Homo sapiens: one gene and its partners. The protein of the gene in region 4 purifies or fractionates together with the protein of the main gene of each other region. This does not show direct contact. Each region holds a gene or a part of one and is shown on either strand. Other genes may lie near its edges. The genes, in order: SUB1, CDC42BPA, MYH10, DEAF1, SP3 and LMO7.

Evidence for each region.
Region 1: the proteins of DEAF1 (region 4) and SUB1 purify together in Homo sapiens (affinity purification with western blotting, with the first as the bait; one study listed by BioGRID). This does not show direct contact.
Region 2: the proteins of DEAF1 (region 4) and CDC42BPA purify together in Homo sapiens (affinity purification with mass spectrometry, with the first as the bait; one large-scale study listed by BioGRID). This does not show direct contact.
Region 3: the proteins of DEAF1 (region 4) and MYH10 purify together in Homo sapiens (affinity purification with mass spectrometry, with the first as the bait; one large-scale study listed by BioGRID). This does not show direct contact.
Region 5: the proteins of DEAF1 (region 4) and SP3 purify together in Homo sapiens (affinity purification with western blotting; one study listed by BioGRID). This does not show direct contact.
Region 6: the proteins of DEAF1 (region 4) and LMO7 purify together in Homo sapiens (affinity purification with mass spectrometry, with the first as the bait; one large-scale study listed by BioGRID). This does not show direct contact.

What each region holds. Positions count from the first base shown.
Region 1 is NC_000005.10:32,595,557-32,599,056, reverse strand, and holds part of SUB1 (activated RNA polymerase II transcriptional coactivator p15), read right to left. Parts: intron 97-3,500; coding exon 1-96.
Region 2 is NC_000001.11:227,143,993-227,147,492, forward strand, and holds part of CDC42BPA (serine/threonine-protein kinase MRCK alpha), read right to left. Parts: coding exon 3,367-3,500; intron 1,746-3,366; coding exon 1,497-1,745; intron 1-1,496. UniProt on the Homo sapiens protein: Serine/threonine-protein kinase which is an important downstream effector of CDC42 and plays a role in the regulation of cytoskeleton reorganization and cell migration. Regulates actin cytoskeletal reorganization via phosphorylation of PPP1R12C and MYL9/MLC2.
Region 3 is NC_000017.11:8,624,226-8,627,725, reverse strand, and holds part of MYH10 (myosin-10), read left to right. Parts: intron 1-3,500. UniProt on the Homo sapiens protein: Cellular myosin that appears to play a role in cytokinesis, cell shape, and specialized functions such as secretion and capping. Involved with LARP6 in the stabilization of type I collagen mRNAs for CO1A1 and CO1A2.
Region 4 is NC_000011.10:646,978-650,222, reverse strand, and holds part of DEAF1 (deformed epidermal autoregulatory factor 1 homolog), read left to right. Parts: intron 1-3,245. UniProt on the Homo sapiens protein: Transcription factor that binds to sequence with multiple copies of 5'-TTC[CG]G-3' present in its own promoter and that of the HNRPA2B1 gene. Down-regulates transcription of these genes.
Region 5 is NC_000002.12:173,906,374-173,909,873, reverse strand, and holds part of SP3 (transcription factor Sp3), read left to right. Parts: 3' UTR 1-3,500. UniProt on the Homo sapiens protein: Transcriptional factor that can act as an activator or repressor depending on isoform and/or post-translational modifications. Binds to GT and GC boxes promoter elements. Competes with SP1 for the GC-box promoters.
Region 6 is NC_000013.11:75,807,330-75,810,829, forward strand, and holds part of LMO7 (LIM domain only protein 7), read left to right. Parts: intron 1-150; coding exon 151-870; intron 871-1,824; coding exon 1,825-1,854; intron 1,855-3,500.

The DNA of each region.
Region 1 (3,500 bases), on a different chromosome or scaffold from region 4:
TTTCATTTCACCTTCAGGATCCATCCAATATTCTCTAATATCAATTAGCACTTTGCCTTTAAAATCGCGAACACTAACGTACCTCATTTTCCCAATCTGCAAAAGAAACAAACATAAAAAGAGGTGCTCCTTTCAAGAGTGGTATCTGTTTCAATTGTATTCATATTCACAACTTGCTGCATGCTCACTCTACATCTAATCATGAAAATGACTACTGCTGACCCTTGAACAACATGGCTCTGAACTGTGCAGGTCCCACTTATATGCATATTTTTTTCAATAAATATACTGGAAAAATTTTTGCAGACTTGACAATTTGAAAAAACTCACAGAACAACTGCATAGCCTAGAAATAACGAAAACATTAAGAAAAAGTTAGGTATGTCATGAATGCATAAAACATACCTAGATATGAGGTTATTTTATCACTTACTATCATAAAACATACAAATCTATTATATGAAGTTAGAGAGAAATGTAAACAAAGATGGAGTATTAATTCATAACTGCATAAAATTAACTACAGTAGTGTACTAGTGTTAACTTCATAGCCACTTCCTGTTATCTCAGTGTACTCAAATGTTACAAGTATCTGCTTAAAACACCTTGTGTAAAACACCATGTGATGCTAATCATCTCTGCTGAGCAGTTCATGTCTCCAACAAATTGCGTATTGCAGTAAAAAGTGATCTCTCACGGTTTTCACATTATTTTTCATCATGATTACTGCAATACCATAAACTTTAAATAACACCATGAGTCCTATACAAAGTGCCCCTAGTGATGCTGAAAGTGCTCCCAAGAAGCAGAGAGAAGGCATGACATCACAAGAAAAAAACTGCCAGAAGCAGTGGTGCATGCCTATGATCCCAGCTACTCAGGAGGCTGAGGCCGGAGGATCACTTGAGCCCAGGAGCTTGAATCCAATCTGGGCAACACAGCAAGATCCTGTCTTTAATTTTAAAATGCAAAAAAATAAAAATAAAAATAAAAATAAAAAAGTTGAATTGCTTGATATGTACCACGGACTGAAATCTGCAGCTGTGGTTGCCTACAATTTCTAACAGATGACATATTTTATTAACAGATGACATATCTTATAAACAGACAACGTAAACTAATGTTATTGATAAACACCATACAGTACAGTAAAATGTAATTTTTCTCCCTTATGATTTTCTTAGTAATATTTTCTTTTCTCTAGCTTACTTTATTGTAAGAATACAGTATATAATACATATAACATACAAATATATGTTAACTGTTTATGTTACTGTTAAGGCTACCAGTCAACAGTAGGCTATACTTAGCAGTTTTGACAAAGTCAAAAGTTATAACCAGATTTTCAACTGCACAGGGGTTGGTGCCTTGCATTTTGACCCTGCATTGTTCAAGGGTCAACTGTACTACTCTCAGTATCAAAACTGCAACCAAAGGAAATTGCTGTTTAAACTATCATATGATCCAGCAATCCTACTTCTGAATATATATCCCAAAAAATTGAAAGCACAGACTCCAAGAGACATCTGCACACCCATGTTCATAGCAGCATTATTCACAAGAGCCAAGAAGTGGAAACAACACAAATATCCACCCAGAGATGAACTGATAAACAAAATGGGAGAGGGGGGGTGGAATAGACACACAATGGAATATCAATTAGCTTTTAAAAAAGGAAATCCTGTTACATACTACGTCAATGAAATAAGCCAGTCATAAAAAGGAAAAAGGTAATACTTTATGATTCCACTTACATGATGTCAAGTTCACAGGAACAAAAAGTAGAATGGTGGTTACCAGGGCTGGGAGAAGGGGAACTGTTGTTTAATGGCCACAGAGGTTCAGTTTTGCAAGATGAAACAGTTTCGGCAATCTGTTTCACAACAATGTGAATATACTTTTATGGTTTTTACCAGCAAAAAAAAAAATCATTAGGAAGCAATATTTTGCAGTACAAACTACAACCAAGAGGAATCCACAGATGCAACTAGCTACACTGCTTCACCAACCATTCTGAATATACGAATCCAGAGTTCCAGTCAATAACAACCAAGTTTTTCCTTTTCATGTTCACTTCAAATAACATCTTTAATGCACCTCACTCACAGTCAGATTGAGAACTTAAAAATATTCACAGAAAATTATTTTTCAAAAATCTTATATATCTGCTTACCACAAATTACAAATTCCAGAGAAAAGAACAGGCTTTCCTCAACAAAGTGTCTCTTAGCACTTTCCAAGACTCACTATAATATAGTAAGGGAAGACAATGCAGTACTGGAGTAAAGACAGACATAAGAGGTCAGTGGAACACAACGGAGTCAAAAAATACACACGCATTGGATATATTCACTGATTTTTTTGGGGGGAGGGGGTAAAATCCAAGGTAATTCAAAGGAATAAGAATACTCTTTTCAACAAATGGTGTTGAAACAACAGGCTATCTGCATTTGGGGTGGGGAAGACTCTAAATCTCTATCTTACATCATACACAGAGAAATTAATTCTACATGAATTATAGACCTAAATGTGAAAACTAAAACTATAAAACTTCTAGGAAAAAACACTGGCAAAAATTTTTGTGGCCATGGTAGGCAAAATACGTCTTGGACAGAAAATAAGCATTAAGCAAAAAAGGAGAAAAATCGATAGAATAGACAATCACACTAAAGCCTTTTTTAAAAAGATGCTTCAGAAAATAAAAAGGTAAACCAGAAACCTAAAGAAAATATTCACTCAAGTTGGAGCCACAGGGGTCTTGGCCTTCGAGGAGAGCCTGAGGAAGAAGCAGAACCGTGGACGTGAAGAAAATGATGAACTGACCAGAATCCGTGAGGACCTCATTTCCAAGAGAGAGAAGATCTGTCACAGACGCCCCTGACCAACTGCCAGTCCCCCCTTATTCTGTCTGTTTGATTCTCTCTGGTTTCATATTTTCCTCTCTGTTAACCTCCACTCATTTTTGAACTAGATTGCTTTGAAAACTAAAGTTTCCCTGAAGTCTAAAAAAAATATTAATTATACTTACATCTGACAAAATATATAAAGTGTTACAACTCAAATGACCTGGCATTTTAAGTGGCCAAAAGATACTCTTCACAAAAGATATAAAAATAACCAATAAACACACTAAAGATGTACAATGAATTAAGACATGTACATGAGGGAAATGGAAAGTAAAACCACCATGAGCTACCATTATACATTCAATGTAACTAAAAAGAAAAAAACTTAAAAGACTGACAATATCTAGCGAGGATGTGGAGCAACTGGAATCTCCTAAGTAGTACCGATGGCTGTGTAAAATGCTACAGCTACTATGGAAAATGGTTTGACAGTGTCTTATACAGTTACACATTTACCCTACGACTCAGCAAATGTATCTGGTATTTACCCAAAAGGGAAAAAATGTCCACAAAATGACTTGTACAAGAATATTCACAGCAGTTGTATTCCTAATAGCCCAAGACTTGATACAATCCCAATGTCCACCCAAGGTG
Region 2 (3,500 bases), on a different chromosome or scaffold from region 4:
TTCTTTGTGAAGTTTAGACAGGAAAGTATGAGAAATTTTTATCTGCCTTGAATACAGTACTAGGATGGTTTTACAATTATCAGTTATCAAACAGTGATCACAGCTTATTGTATTGAAATAGTATTCACTGTTTCAGTGAAAAGTTATATAACGTGTACCGATTATGTACCCACAAAAATTAAAAATAAAGATTTTGTTAAGTCATATAACATTAACATAAAAATTTTTAGTACAGGATTAAAGCCATAGTAAATAAAATAACTGAATAAAAATAAAAGCTCAAATTAAGAAGGCTAAAAAGGGGCCGGGAGCAGTGGCTCATGCCTATAATCCCAGCACTTTGGGAGGCTGAGGAGGGCGGATCACAAGGTCAGGAGATCAAGACCATTCTGGCTAACACGGTGAAACCCCGTCTCTACTAAAAACATAAAAGTTAGCCAGGTGTGGTGGCGCACGCCTACAGTTCCAGCTACTCAGGAGGCTGAGGCAGGAGAACGGCGTGAACCCGGAAGGCGGAGCTTGCAATGAGCCGAGATTGTGCCACAGCACTCCAGCCTGGGAGACAGAGCGAGACTCTGTCTCAAAAAAAAAAAAAAAAAAAAAAAAAAAAAAGAGGAAGGCTAAAAAGGCAAAAAACTCAAAAATTTTAAGTTCTTATTTTCCTAAATTTTAATCTCATATAACCTAAAGGGTTATAGCAGAGGTCAATATACTATGTTGGCCTGTTTTGGCATGGCTCACAAGTTAAGAATGGTTGAATTATTTGGCTATTGGACTGGCCGAATAATTGGCTTGAGGTCTGTATTCACCTCAGGCAGGGCTATACCTCAGAGCTATACCACGTCTGTGGACTATTTTCCCTATTGATTTCCTACCAAGTTTGCTATTGTTAGCAGCAACACACTGGGCTTGGGTATTTAGTCCTGGAATCTGCCCTCTGTATCAGCAAAGCTGCTGATTTTTCTATCCAGTTCCATGCTACTAGTACTACTGTCCCAGACCAAGTCAGTAGTGGGGATGGACGTGTGTGGTATATGTGACTTTAAACTAAAGTTCAGCAGTTTTTCACAAATAAATGCTTCTCAATTTATTTCTCTTCAATTGTTGTATCAGGCCCTGACATGGTTGATTTTGATAATTTTGTCCAGTTTTATGGTTTTAGGGAGAAATTTGCCAACCTCTGCACTTTACAATCATAAAATCTGCTTTTTTAAATATCTAATTTGTTCTCTTACGAAGCTTAATGGCATAACTTATCTAAGAGGTAAAACTTTGAATTTTAATTTTGTTCTTAGTCACAAATAACTATGTTCACCTCAGTTAACTTTCTTCTTAATTTGATTTGTGACAGAATAAGCACCAGAAGCCATGATCACTGACTAATAACTGATCATTGTAAAATCATCCTAGCAAAATACTTATAAACCAAAAAATTACTATATAACCATAGTAGAAAGAAACAGAGGGACAGAACTTCTTCACAGTGTCATACTTACAGAATTTTTTAAACAATCATCATCTACATCAAAATTCGATGTATCTGTTGGGCTACTAACTTCTGGAATATAAGGTGCTTCACAGTTCCGAATATTATCCCAATCAATTCCACTGAAAAATGGGTGTTTCTTAAAGTCTTCTATTCCATTTTGACCAAGTCGATGTTCTCTGCTACAAATGAGCCTTCGAATAAGATCCTTAGCATTTTCAGACACATCAGTCACTTGGGCTGGAAACTGAAACCTCTCCTAAACAGAGAAAAACAGAAACAAAATATAAATCAGTGTTTAACATACTAAGTAGTTGGTTGACTTATTTATTTTCTTAAAAATACATTTTATTTTAAATATATCTAATAACTGCATGTTGGTGCAAAGTACTAATACTAAAGGAATACAGGGATGAATGACAGAAGATCATTTTCCTAGGACTTTTAATTTCATATATGACTCAATCATGCATGCGCTATAGAAAGAAGAATACATTGTACCTTAGATATCTTAAACTGCTATCAGAATGAAGAGAAATTACTTCAAAGTAGTGGAATTTGACTCTATTTAAATCAAGATAGATGATTGATAATGGTCATATAAGTTACATACTAATGATTAACTAATAATAAATATTTTTAAAGGACATAATATGTATCTGACACTATTTAAAGTACGTTACTCATTTAACCCTCAAAACAGTCATTTTAGGTGGGTACTCCTACTATGCTAATATTATAGAAGAAATAAAGACACACAGAATTCAAGTAACTTTCTCAACATTACACATCTAGGAAGTGGCAGAACCAGAATTTGAACTGAAGCTGTAATCTGTGCTGTTAAATATATACTACAATATTTTTTTCTAATTCAAATGATGTACATGCTATTTACAACCCTGCTGCTATTTCCAGTCTTTCAACTCTTTATAACTATATGAAACATTATCTTTGCAAACAGGAAGAAGAATATAAACCCTATAAAACTGATTTTTATACATGTAAAGCAACTAATCATAATTGCTTCACTAGAACAAATTAAAAAGAATAGATTATCATTCCCTTCTATCGGATATTCATATTCTAAGTATTTGCAACTGCTCACAATCTTCTAAGACTGCTAATAAAACCTTTCTTCTTATTATTATGAACAGTCTATTTCACTTAGTACTAAATATATTAACGTTTCATTAATTTGTTCTTGTTGTGTGTCTGTGTTGCTTCTAGTGTTCTGTGATCATAAATAACGTTAGAATAGGTATCCTTGTACATATATCTTTGTTCTACTGAGAATGTCATAGGGTAGATTCCTAGACTGAAGTTGCTCAATCAAAACCTCTAACCATTTTTTAAGGCTCTAGGTGCACACCTGTAAACTTCCTGAACAGAAAGGTTACACCAATTTATATTCCTATTAATGTCTTAGAATGCCCATCTCACTGCATTATTTATGGTACAGAGTACTATTTTTCTTTTGATCTTTGCTAATTTGACAAGAAAAAAAAGTATCTCATCCTTATTTTAAATTTGTATTGCACTTATTACCACTAAAGTTGAAAATTTTTTTACACATATTCTAGTCATGATTATACATATACTATAGTAAGCAATGATCTAAATTCTCTACTTACGACCTTTGTTATTCTACTGGGGAGACCACTTAATTTCCTACTTAGCGGCATCTCTAATAAAATACAAGAAAATTAGAACTAATAACTTATGAATAATTTATGGATTTTGACTATTTATGTTGTCCTGTCCCATACTAGGATAGAAATGTGATTGTTCACTGTTTTTAGAAAAATATTTTCTCTTTAAAAATGGTTTTATTATATGTGTTATTTACCACATTAATTTGAACAAAAGTAAAACATACTAACTTTGTGGTTCATGATTTTTCCGTATGTCTCCACCAGCGATTCTGCATAAAATGGTGTTTCTCCGTAAAGCATTTCATACATACAGACCCCCAAAGACCACCAGTCACATTCAGGTCCATATCTCCCTTTTCCAT
Region 3 (3,500 bases), on a different chromosome or scaffold from region 4:
TCCTGCAAAGCAAATCACTGGTGAGTGGTACACTGTTAAACACCAGTATTATCCAGATTGGGTACCAATGTATTATGGAGTGAAATAAATGTATTTGACAATTACAAGTGAAGAATTAAACTGAACAAAATATCTCCAATGGTCTCATGAACTCTATCAGGTAAACAATAATATGAACACTTAACAGCTGCAAAGCCCTCTGGTACAACGCAGGGTAGGGTAAGAAGAAAGTCAGGAGAACAGTACAAAATGTTAGGAGAAGGAAAAGGATTAAATTGCCACATTGACCTGAAAAGAACTTCTGAAAGGATGGCATTTGGGTCAGGAGTTGAAGGAATAATAGCTTTTTGGTTGTGGAGAAGTTGAATTTCACTATGAGGGTTGGGACCATTCACGTAAATATTGATCAATAGGTACAGATCCCCTGTTATATACCAGGGACTAGACAAAATGCTCAAGATACAGCGTGGAACAGATGACTCTCCTCATAGTGTTTAGTTGTAGAAGAGACTGAAAAGGTGAAAGTCATTGGTAATCCTACTACCCAGTAAAGACCCAATGAATATTTGTTCCGTTTAAAAAAAAAATACACACGTGTATGTAGTTTTCCCCACAAAATTGGGAACATGCTGTGTAATTACACTTTTGTGTTCTACTGGGTTTTTTAAAATACTAAATTACAAGCATTTCCCCATCTAGAAAAAGTACTGATAATATGTAAGATGTCCCAATTTGATAAAATAATTTTAAGATATATAATCTACTGCTTCTAGACCTGTTCTAGAAGTTATTTGTTAAATTATTCTAATTTATAGTCACCTGCTAAATTTAAGCATCTAATTACATGTCCAGTGTAAAATTTAAGAAGTGTGTGCGTGTCTACTGACAGCAAGACAGTTTCCTAAGTGCTCTGTAGGATATGCAGTTTACACCTGATAAGAATAGTAAGAGAAACTTGTCATATTTTGTTATAGTTGAATATTTTCTTTTAATAGATTCTACCCTTCTGAAAGGTGGAGTGTGTATCCTATTATTTGTTCTCAAATTTACCTGTGATGTTTCCCACCTTGAAGCCATGCCTCCTTTCTTCTTTTTTTTTAAATTTTTTATTTTACTTATTATTATTATTATTATTATTATTATTATTTATTATTATTTTGAGACAGAGTCTCATTCTGTTGCCGAGGCTGGAGTGCAGTGGTGTGATTTCAGCTCACTACAACCTCTGCCTCCTGGGCTCAAGTGATCTTCCTGCCTCATCCTCCTGAAGAACTGGGACTGCAGGCCTGTGACACCAAGCCCAGCTAATTTTTTGTATTTTTTGTAGAGACGGGGTTTCGCTATGTTGCCCAGGCTGGTCTTGAACACCTGGACTCGAGCAATCTACCTGCCTCGCCCTCCCAAAGCGCTGGGATTACAGGCGTGAGCCACCCCACCTGGCCTCCTTTCTTTTTACCAGTGTGCAACGTTTAAGTTGGAAAGAGACAACTTGTTAATAGTGTTATTAGACCAGTCCCTAGAGGCTTTTAAAACTGTTATGCAGAATGTACATGTATCTATGAATGTTTTCTGTATTGCCCTCTCCAAAGAGGATGTCTTAGAAGACTAATGCAAGTTTAGGTATAAAATGTGTTAGCAATTTTATTTGTATAGAAGTTTTAATAACATTAATCACATGTTGTGTGATTTTTTGTTTCATCTTATTTTGCGGTTTTTGTTTTATCCAAGTCTATAACCTTTAAGACATCAACATGTTATTTAAATTGTTATGAATTAGTCTAGAATTTGGTTTTCAACCTCTTTTTCTACTCTAACATACCTGCTGGTAGCAGTGGCGCACCATGGCAACCACAGAACTTTGGAGCAATGGTTGTCAAATGTGTCCCAGGACCAGCAGTGGCAGCAGCATCTGGGAACTTGTTAGAAATGCAAATTCTGAGGCTCAGGCTGGACGCGGTGGCTCACGCTTGTAATCCCAGCACTTTGGGAGGCCGAGGCAGGTGGATCACCTGAGGTGAGGAGTTCAAGACCAGCCTGACCAACATGGTGAAACCCCATCTCTATTAAAAATACAAAAATTAGCGGGTCATGGTGCAGGCCTGCCTGTAATCCCAGCTACTTGGGAGGCTGAGGCAAGAGAATCACTTGAACCCTGGAGGCAGAGGTTGCAGTGAGCTGAGATTGCGTCCACTGCACTCCAGCCTGGGCAACAGGGTGAAACTCTGTCTCAAAAAAAAAAAAAATAGTTCTCAGGCTCTACCCTATACCTACTGAATCAGGGACTCTGGGATAGAGCCCAGCAATCTGTATTTTAATAAACCCTCTAGGTGCTGCAAATGCATGCCTGAATTTGACAGCCGCTACTATAGAAGATGAGTGTTTGTAACGCATTACATTGCAACAAGTAATTTCTGAAGAATCTTAGCTATTTGGTTCTAGTAAATTATTTTTTTAAATTTATTTTTGTTTGTTTTTGAGACGGAGTCTTGCTCTGTCACCCAGCCTGGAGTGCAGTGGCACGATCTCAGCTCACTGCAACCTCCGCCTCTCAGGTTCAAGCAATTCTCCTGCCTCAGCCTCCTGAGTGGCTGGGATTACAGGCACCCACCACCACGCCTGGCTAATTTTTTGTTATTTTTGGTGGAGATGGGGTTTCACCATGTTGGCCAGGCTGGTCTCGAACTTCTGACCTCAGGTGATCCACCCATCTCGGCCTCCCAAAGTGCTAGGATTATAGGCATGAGCTACTGCACCCAGCTGGTTCTAGTAAATTATTAGTAGTAGTTAAAGGGCTAGATATGCACCAACACGCCTGGCTAATTTTTAAATTTTTCTGTAGAGGCGGGATCTTGCTATGTTGCCCAGGCTGGTCTCAAATATTTGGCTTCAAGCACTCCTCCCACCTTAGCCCCTCAAGTTGCTGAGATAACAGTTATGGGCCATTGTGCCCAGAAGTTGGTTGAATGTGTAACCACTATCAGTGATTAATCTTTTAGGATACAGATAGAGCCCTTTAGAATCTAGAGAACGTTATAGCACATATATACACACGCTAAGTGCATAATATTTTTATACCATTTCAGGGATTTTGTTGAAGTTGAGATTAGCTGATGGACTCAAGAACCTCTTAACAACCTTAGACTACTTTATGATTTCCTCTTGCCTACAAAGAACCTCTAGCATTTTTGGCTAGGGGAGTGGAGTGAACAGAGGGGAGAAGTGGGGATTTGATAGAGCAAGAGTAGGTACTCAGTTGGCTTCTTCTGTTGGTTTGAATGAAGTGATGGAAGCCATGCCTATGAAATTTATAATAACCTGGAATTTGGAGTAGCAGCAAAAATGTTTAAGTTGGTATCAAATCCCAAAAAGATCCTGTCAGGCAATCATGATGAGTCACATTAGAAAGATGATGGATGTAAAATCCTGCCATTTGGTCCAGAAAGCCAGTGCACAAGTAGAGGAGGGGACATAGCTTAGCCACAAAGTGATGGAGCTTCCTC
Region 4 (3,245 bases):
TTTGTATTTTTAATAGAGACGGGTTTCACCATGTTGGCCAGGCTGGTCTCAAACTCCTGACCTCAAGAGATTCACCCGCCTCAGCCTCCCAAAGTGGTGGGATTACAGGTGTGAACCACCACACTAGTCTCTGCCTTTTGATTGGAGTGTTTAATCTACTTTTTTGTTTTGTTTTTGTTTTTGTTTTTGTTTTTGTTTTTTAGACAATCTCACTCTGTCGCCAGGCTGGAGTGCAATGGCACGATCTCAGCCCACTGCAACCTCAACGTCCCGGGTTCAAGTGATTTCCCTTCCTCAGCCTCCTGAGTAGCTGGGATTATAGGCATGAGCCACCACGTCCAACTAATTTTTGTGTTTTTAGTAGAGATGGGGTTTCTCCGTGTTGGCAAGGCTGGTCTCGAACTCCTGACCTCAGGTGATCCACTCGCCTCAGCCTCCCAAAGTTCTAAGATTACAGGTGTGAGCCACCGCACTGGAACTCGGCCTGTTTTGTTTTTTGAATTGAGACAGAGTATCACTTTGTTGCCCAGGCTGGAGTGCACTGGCGTAATCTCGGCTCACTGCAGCCTCCACCTCCTGGGTTTAAGGGATTCTCGTGCCTCATTCTCCCGAGTAACTGGGACTGCAGGAGTGTGCCATCAGACCCGGCTAATTTTTGTACTTTTAGTAGACACAGGGTTTCACCATGTTGGTCAGGCTGGTCTTGAGCTCCTGACCTCAAGTGATCCGCCCGCCTCGGCCTCCCAAACTGCTGGGATTATAGGTGTGAGCCACCACACCCAGCTGTTTTGTTTTTTTTTTTAAGTGGGGTCTCTCTCTGTCACCCAGGCCAGAGTGCAGTGGCACAATCTCAGCTCAGTGCAACCTCCGCTTCCCGGGTTCAAGCAATACTCCTCCTTCAGCCTCCCAAGTAACTGGGATTACAGGCACCCGCCACCATGCCCGTTTTTGTTGTTGTTGTTGTGTGTGTGTGTGATGGAGTCTCGCACGGTTGCCCAGGCTAGAGTGCAGTGGCGCAATCTCGGCTCACTGCAGCCTCTGCCTCCCGGGTTCAAGCGATTCTCCTGCCTCAGCCTCCCAAGTAGTTGGGATTACAGGCATGCACCACCATGCCAGGCTAATTTTTGTATTTTTCGTAGAGAGAGGGTTTTGCCATGTTGGCCAGGCTGGTCTTGAACTCCTGGGCTCAAGTAACCCTCCCACCTTGGCCTCCCAAAGTGCTGGGATTATAGGCATGAGCCACTGCGCAAAACCTAATCTCATGTTTAATGTAATTATCAATGTGAGTGGATTTGTGTTTATATTTGCAGTTTATGTTTCATGTTTTGCTCCTCTGTTCTTTCACTGCCTTCTTTTCTGTTAAATGTGTATTTTCTAGTTGTGTTTTCTAGTGTACCACTTCAATTCTTTTGTTGAACATTTTTAAACAGTATCTTTAAAGTTGTTATTTTCTTACTGCTATAGGTATTACAATATACATTTTAATTTATCTCAGTTTCAGTAGGAGGATAGAATTTCCTCAAGCAGGGAAAGTGTACTGCAGAGGCTGAGTGTATACATTCCTGGCAAACACTATTTGGGCCCCAATATAAGCACTTACTGAGCTCCTTTCACCTACAGAACGAACACATCCCGTTCTTTTAAAAGCTGCCTTCCAGCCGGACCTCCAGCCCAGGACACCCTGTCCTCAAGCCTCCCTCAGATCCTGTTCTTTAAAAAGCTGCCTTCAGCTGGGCACGGTGGCTCACGCCTGTAATCCCAGCACTTTGGGAGGCCGAGGCGGGCGGATCACGAGGTCAGGAGATCGAGACCATCCTGGCTAACATGGTGAAACCCCGTCTCTACTAAAAATACAAAAAAATTAGCTTGGCGTGGTGGTGGGCGCCTGTAGTCCCAGGTACTCGGGAGGCTGAGGCAGGAGAATGGCATGAACCCGGGAGGCGGAGCTTGCAGTGAGCCGAGATCGTGCCACAGCACTCCAGCCTGGGAGACAAAGGGAGACTCCGTCTCAAAAAAAAAAAAAAAAGGCAGTGATAATTTTAAAAATTAATTGTAGAGGACTTGGTATGTACACAAAAGTATACACGAGTTTATGCATGTTATGAAGCCCCAACAGGAATCCCCTGCTCCCAGCACCGCCTGGGTCAAGTCCACCCACCTGCTCCCAGCACCGCCTGGGTCAAGTCCACCCACCTGCTCCCAGCACCGCCTGGGTCAAGTCCACCCACCTGCTCCCAGCACCGCCTGGGTCAAGTCCACCCACCTGCTCCCAGCACCGCCTGGGTCAAGTCCACCCACCTGCTCCCAGCACCGCCTGGGTCAAGTCCACCCACCTGCTCCCAGCACCGCCTGGGTCAAGTCCACCCACCTGCTCCCAGCACCGCCTGGGTCAAGTCCACCCACCTGCTCCCAGCACTGCCTGGATTGAGTCACCTACGTGCTGTGGTGGCAACACTTTTCTTTTAATCCTTAACTTTGGAAAATGTGAGACGTGCACATGAGTTGGATCGCCCAGGAGAGGCCCGTCGCCCTCACCTGTATCAGCTGCTTTAGCGCCTGCCCTCCTGGCTTGTCCCCCTCTCTCTTTGGGCTGAGGGCTGAGCATTTTAAAGCAAGCCCCACGCATCATTATTTTCATTTGTGAGGCCTGGATCACTGTAAGTCAGATTTGGATTGTGTTTTAATTGGATTTTTAGTCACTGTTTTTATTTCATTACTTATTTTTGGTTTTTATTTGTTCGTTTGTTTTTGGTTTTGTTTCTGTTTTTGAGACAGGGTCTGGCTCTGTCACCCAGGCTGGAGTGCAGCGGCGCGATCTTGGCTCACTGCAACCTCCACTTCCCAGGTTCAAGCGATTCTCCTGCCTCAGCCTCCCTAGTAGCTGGGGATTACAGGCACCCGCCACCACGTCCGGCTAATTTTTGTATTTTTAGCAGAGACGGGGTTTCACCATGTTGTTCAGGCTGGTCTTGAACTCCTGACCTCATGATCTGCCTGCCTTGGCCTCCCAAAGTGCTGAGATTACTGGCATGAGCCACCGTACCCAGCCTATTTTAGGTTTTCTATAGACAGGGTCTCGCTTTGTCACCCAGGCTGCAGTCCAGTGGTGCCATCACGGCTCACTACAGCCTTGATCTCCTGGCTCAAGTGATCCTCCTGCCTCTGTCTCCCAAGTAGCTTGGACCACAGGCATGAGCCACCACACCCAGCTAATTTTAAAACATTTTTTTTTTTTTATAGAGATA
Region 5 (3,500 bases), on a different chromosome or scaffold from region 4:
TTCTTAGATATCTTTTTATTGATGTGCAAAAATTTTTGGATTGACAGTAACTTGGTTATACATGACACTGAAATGCCTTACTTTGTATGATATTCCATAGTATATTAAAAATGGTAAAATTGCATGGGTTTTGTAGGTACTTTTGGAATCTAGAAGAAATGAAATTTTACCAAGTTATATAAAGAGAAAATTGAATTTAACAATGCGAATGGTAGTCTAACCAAATGCATCAATCCTGTGTGGTTTAGTGTAAAAATGAGAACATGTTGGTATTTATCTATTGTAAGATAAAAAAGCTGGTGGGTGAAAGAAATCATGTTATGATAAAAAATTTTGTAATTTTCTTGATGACTGGAATTTTTATTATGCATAACTGACAAATCAAGTTTCCAAGCAAATGTTACATAGTGTAGGCTTTACTTAGCTTATCAATTTGTCATTTTGAAGCTAATTATTTTAATTAGGTTAACTATGTACAATATTTTAAGCATTACTCTTGTAAGATTTTGAAAACTACATTTTAACATGGAACTCTAGGGATAGTCACCTTTTAAATCCTGTTGAAAAGCCATGTTTAAGATTTAATTTGCCAAAATAATGTCTTGTTAATATTCTTTCAATAACGAAGTTGGGCAATATAACCAATGTTTAAAAAAGTTTAAAATGTATAAGTTGAGGCATTTGGGTGGTAAGAGAATGTTATAGTGAATTATCCCTTTTCTTGACTATTGGAGGACCAAAAAAATAAGGTGTATTGCGTCTTAGCAGTGATTTTTATCCAATCTTGTTTCCAAAAACCATGTCTCCCAGGGCCTTAAAAGCCATCATGTAAATTACCAGTAAAGTGTAACATATGCAAACATAACAAAATCACTTCCATAGTGACGATACTCCAACCATATGGATATTAGTCATAGAAGAACTAGAGGTTTTATGATATTTTTTTAAGTCTTTTTTTTTTTTGTCTAGGTAGTCAGTCTGCACTTAAATATCAATCATTTTCCTTTTTTGCTTCTTCCCTTAAAATTTATATGTATCCAGTACATTTAATTGAGAAGCGTATGTTTTTTATTATGCTGTATTTTCTTTTTATTTTTTAATTATTGTTTATATTTTCAATTCAAAAATGTACAAAATAAAGTTACATTGCTGGTCTTGTAAGAGCTATACAGTTTTCCTAAATGTATACCTGTAACTGCAGCAGTTCACCTATTTCAAAAATTTGGAATTCTGTTCATTTGTTATTCTTAAGACCACCTCAAATTTAAAGGCTACCTTATTGTACGTTTAAAGTGTATTATAACAGTGTGGTAGTTAATAAAACACTATTTTTTTTTCTTTTGAGTTTGTTGTATTCCTATGCATAAAAAATATTGCAGTGGTATGGGGTAAGAATTGGTGGTTTATTTTTCTTCAACTTGGCTTTTTATTTTTAGATTCTTGATTTTAGACACTGAATTGTAAACAGGCATTTATTTGAAGAAGAGATATATAGAGACACTGGTCATTTACTAATTTTTTACCTAGAGTAAATAAGAATGAGCTTATTAAATAAAATTTTTGAAAAAAAGTCTTAGCCCTTAGCCCACATTGATTCATATCAGTTTTATCAGTACCATTTTGCAATTTTTTTGTTTTCCGTTTTAAAGCAATGCAGAATATTTTGATTTATCGAAAACCTGAATTTACATTAAGACTCCTGAAAATGATAAGACAAGCGTTGGTAACCATGGCAGGAGTTACTTGAAAAAGTTGCCTTTGAATTTGCATGTGTTTCATCATTATAAAGGCAGAGTAGGAGGAAAGAGTATTAATGTGATTGTGTATTGTAGATGTTTTAAAGTAAAAATCAAGTTTCTTAACACATGTATACAGTGGGGGTAAAGATGTCCATTTTCTGTTTTCCAGGCCCAGTCTGACTCTGTCTGTAATACCTGATTGCATTGGAGAACTCTAGACACGCATAAACATGGACAGTTTTTCTAAATGTGAGACTTAAGCCTGTGATGTAAAATAGGAAGTTCTACTTGGAATAATATAAAGGAACCACTAGAATTTACAATTATTTTGAAGTTACAGGGATTAGATTTTGAATCTTAAAATCCTTTAGGTAATTTTTAGAATTTTTAAATTAAGATTAATGTGAAGAGAATTAAGTGAGCAGCAGGTGGTTCACTTGAGCAAACTGCCCATTAAGTCAGATTAAACCATTTGAATGATAGTAGAGATGTTTTAAGTAATACTGGATTTTTACAGTAAGTTTATGGTGTACTTTGAATCGATAGGTGTCCATGCATATTTTATGAATTCGTGGAGAATGAATGCAATGAAGAAAGTAAGTAGTCTTGAAAATTATTTAAATAAAGTTGTAGATTTTTTTAGTGCCCCCTAGGAATATATTAGTGAACTTTGGAACTTTTACCAAAGTTATGTAACCTCAGTGTAGATAATTTTAAATATTTCTATTTTTATATTTTAAAATGTTGAATATACTCTGGAAACAACATTTGAAGATTTGCTCTGATGTCAACTTTTTCTGGTTATAAAACCTATTAGTATTGTGTATAATTCTCAGGGTAGGTATACTCTAATAGGTGTTTTGTCAATTGCTTTATTTTTGTAAAGGCTAGAGTTAGTGCATATTGAATATATTTATGTACAAATAATTCCTGTTGTAACATTTAGTGGACGCGATTATCTGTATACCTCAAATTTTAATTTAAGAAAGTATCACTTAAAGAGCATCTCATTTTCTATAGATTGAGGCTTAATTACTGAAAAGTGACTCAACCAAAAAGCACATAACCTTTTAAAGGAGCTACACCTACCGCAGAAAGTCAGATGCCCTGTAAATAACTTTGGTCTTTCAAAATAGTGGCAATGCTTAAGATACTTAAAAATACACATACATATAAGCTGAAAGCATGTCAAGCCTATTTCATAGAAAATAGTTCTTAAACAGTATTGTTCATTAGAAATTGCTGGGGAGCATTTTAGAGATTCCATAGGCCTGGTAGCCACCTCAGCTTACTAAATCAACATCTCTGGAGATGGAGTGTATATGTGTTTTGAAACAGCTGCTCAAGTGGTTCTGTTAAACACTCCTGCGTTACAATCACTTAAAATAGAGCAAGCATCCCCTTAGGCTCTTAATTGTAGTTTAAATTCCAGTACTGCCTACTCAGACCCAAAAGTTTTGTTTTATGAAAAATTTGTATTGTGTTCAATATTGTTTGAAATTTGGGGTTGTTGCATAAATGATTATGGAATAACATTTGGTTTTAAAATAATATAAACTGACATGTTATGCTACCTGTTACACAATTTGGTTTTCAGTTTTAATTATATGAAGCTGGTAACAATCGTTTTTGTTGTAAAAGAATTATTTTTCACTAAACAGTATGTTTAAAACTGACTGCCATGAATGAGTACTAAGTCTTTTGTTGTCTGACAATAAGCACAAAACAAATTAATTGATATCTTTGGTACAAATTTGATAT
Region 6 (3,500 bases), on a different chromosome or scaffold from region 4:
CAAGAGTCCCCACAATGGTCCTCTAAAATGATTTACCCTCAGTAACTGGCTAGTTGGTCTGCTAATCACCTTTGGCTAGTCGATCTGCTAATTACCTTTTCTCCCTAAGCTTAATAAGATTCTCTTTCCTTTTTCCTCTCTGTGCATCAGTCAGTTTTTACTGCTTCAGGCCCTCCAAACATACTCTGATGACATCTTGTCTTCTGAAACACATACCAAAATTGATCCCACTTCTGGCCCAAGGCTCATAACCCGCAGGAAGAATCTCTCTTATGCACCAGGCTATAGAAGAGATGACCTCGAGATGGCAGCCCTGGATCCTGACTTAGAGAATGATGATTTCTTTGTCAGAAAGACTGGGGCTTTCCATGCAAATCCATATGTTCTCCGAGCTTTTGAAGACTTTAGAAAGTTCTCTGAGCAAGATGATTCTGTAGAGCGAGATATAATTTTACAGTGTAGAGAAGGTGAACTTGTACTTCCGGATTTGGAAAAAGATGATATGATTGTTCGCCGAATTCCAGCACAGAAGAAAGAAGTGCCGCTGTCTGGGGCCCCAGATAGATACCACCCAGTCCCTTTTCCCGAACCCTGGACTCTTCCTCCAGAAATTCAAGCAAAATTTCTCTGTGTACTTGAAAGGACATGCCCATCCAAAGAAAAAAGTAATAGCTGTAGAATATTAGTTCCTTCATATCGGCAGAAGAAAGATGACATGCTGACACGTAAGATTCAGTCCTGGAAACTGGGAACTACCGTGCCTCCCATCAGTTTCACCCCTGGCCCCTGCAGTGAGGCTGACTTGAAGAGATGGGAGGCCATCCGGGAGGCCAGCAGACTTAGGCACAAGAAAAGGCTGATGGTGGAGAGGTCAGAGTGTGTTTCTGCAAGGATTTTGCTTGTAATGGATGGTCTTGTGTAACTTTTCTCATGCGAGAAAGCAGCTCATCGTGTTGCTCAACTCTGCATGTCGCGTGCCATTTTGAAGCATCCCGTAAAATTTAATTTGCTTTGAAAAACCCTCAGTCGTTTTGTACAAAAAGTGCAATTCCATATTTGCATATCTCTAAATAACTTATTTAGGCCTGTTTAAGACTGTATATACATAAACCTTGCCTTTGACTTAAGCAGTACTGTGGTACTATCCACCAATATGAAGTTTCTGGACTTCTCATGTTCAGGCATTTTTGTAACAGTCTGGTTATAGTTTGGTTTTATGTGTTGCTCACATTTTAGAGTGTCTGATTTTTTTGGGGGGGTGAAATTTTCCCTTAAAATATGGCATTGCAAATTTCATTTAACTTAATTTTTGGTTTTGGCCTAGGTTTCTTGGACTATCATTTGTAACTTATTTTTATTTATGAAGTTCAGAGTAAACGTTGATGTTAAAATGCATGAATGGTATTTGTTGTCTGCTGAATTTTATGTGTATGTAATCATGGCCATTTTGATAGTTTGTATTATGCAACTTGCCTTTTTGATGAATGTTCAGTTTGTGGAACTTAGAGATGGACAAATCTGATTAGGTTGAATAAAATTAGAGGATCCAAATCTAACTTAACAGTTCCTGACAATGGGAAGCCTTTTCATATGGATTTGTTAGCTCAGAGTAAATTGAGGAAATTCTTCATTTTGCTTAATCTGAATTTCCTGAGATAGGAAATTGATGAGAACTTGAGACATGATCAAGAATGTGATGGAAGAAGTGACCTTTTGAGATTTGTCCGTCTCCAGTTAGATTCTTAAGTGGAAGACATTGAACGTTTAGAAACTAATATGACTGGGAAAAATGACTTTTTAATTTTTGGTTTTCTGGTTTCTTAGACTCTTTCAAAAGATTTATGGTGAGAATGGGTAAGTTGTGTGGTTCACAGTAAAAAATCTGTGCGTGTTGTTTGTTCTTTGTATAACTTACTGTATTTCTGGCATGGCATGTCACTAAATGGGGTTGTTGTGTGCTGTGCATGATATTTTTTAAGTGGGAAATGTTTATCTTGCAACCTAATGGTAATATTTCTGTGTCTTGGTGCCCAGTGCAAGATAAAATTATTTGTTTTATTAAAAATTTAAACTTCAGCTTCATCCCTTCTTTTTTCCTTTTTAAAAATTTAATGAGTTGATTAAAAGTCACAAAAGCACTTGCCTAAGATTAGGTATATGTATTTTGGTATTTGGTTGCTACATAGACTAAAATTCTGATTTATGGATGCTAAAGCCCAAATTACTACATTTTAGAAAATCTGTGATGGAAAAAGAATATTAGCATTTACTTCAAGTTTAGAATACACCCAGTTGACATTATCCTATAATCGGCCAACTGGGAGCTTCGTTAGTAGGGATGCATTAAACTTCCCTAGGTGGTATTTGGAAGTATTATATTTTCAAGATTCCTGATTAGGAAAAAAAAGTTATAACATGGCTATATTTATAGTGCAAAATAGACCTTCAAAAACTGCAAAAATATTTTTAATTTCTAATATCACTGTTGCAAAAACTACATTTTTTTTTTTTTTTTTTTTTGAGATGGAGTCTCGCTCTGTCGCCCAGGCTGGAGTGAAGTGGCGCAATCTTGGCTCACAGCAACTTCCACCTCCCAGGTTCAAGCAATTCTCCTGTCTCAGCCTCCTGAGTAGCTGGGACTACAGTTGCATGCCACCACACTCTGCTAATTTTTGTATTTTTAGTAGAGACGGGGTTTCACCAGATTGGTCCGGCTGGTCTCAAACTCCTGACCTCAGGTGGTCCATCCACCTCAGCCTCCCAAAGTGCTGGGATTACAGGCAAAAACTACATTTACAGTAAATCATTTATTCATTCTTAGTACAAAATCACAAGGTGGCTATATCTTAATATTTTCCACCAAACTTTCTGTAACTTTGTGAATCTAAGGGCTAATAGTGTTTGAGCAAGAGGAAGAGAGTTAAAGGATGACAGATGTTTTAATCTGCTCAAGCCTCAGTAGCTAAGTATCTTCCCTTATGAGGATTTACTTCATCTATAAGAATCTCTAGTTTTGATAGCTTTTTATAACTTTGATAATTCAGAAATGTTGGAAGCTACTAAATGTAAAGCAGTATAACCATTCTAGATGCCAAAGGTGTAACTGAGCCACAGGCAACAAATTGCAAGTACTTGTTAGCCACTGATTTTAAAAACCAGGGTCCCTGCATGCTTTCCGTGTGCCATGCAAAGGCACATTATCCGCTTTCCAGCTCATCTGCATGATGCTTAAACATTTGCTACTCTCAAGTCATAGGAAAGCTGTTTTAACTTGATTAAAAATCTCTTTGCAGCTTTAAGCATGTTGAATTGTAACTTTCAGAAAAATTTTCATTTGTAAATTAAATATAACTTTATAATGTAAGCAGCTCTCAGAAATAGTTGCTTTTCTTAAAGGAAATAAAAGTACCCAGAGTACAAGTATGTGGTGGAAATGTCAACATGTACAACCATTTCAGTGGCTGGATGTGTTCCCTGTAGTGAGGGGTAAATTATATGAC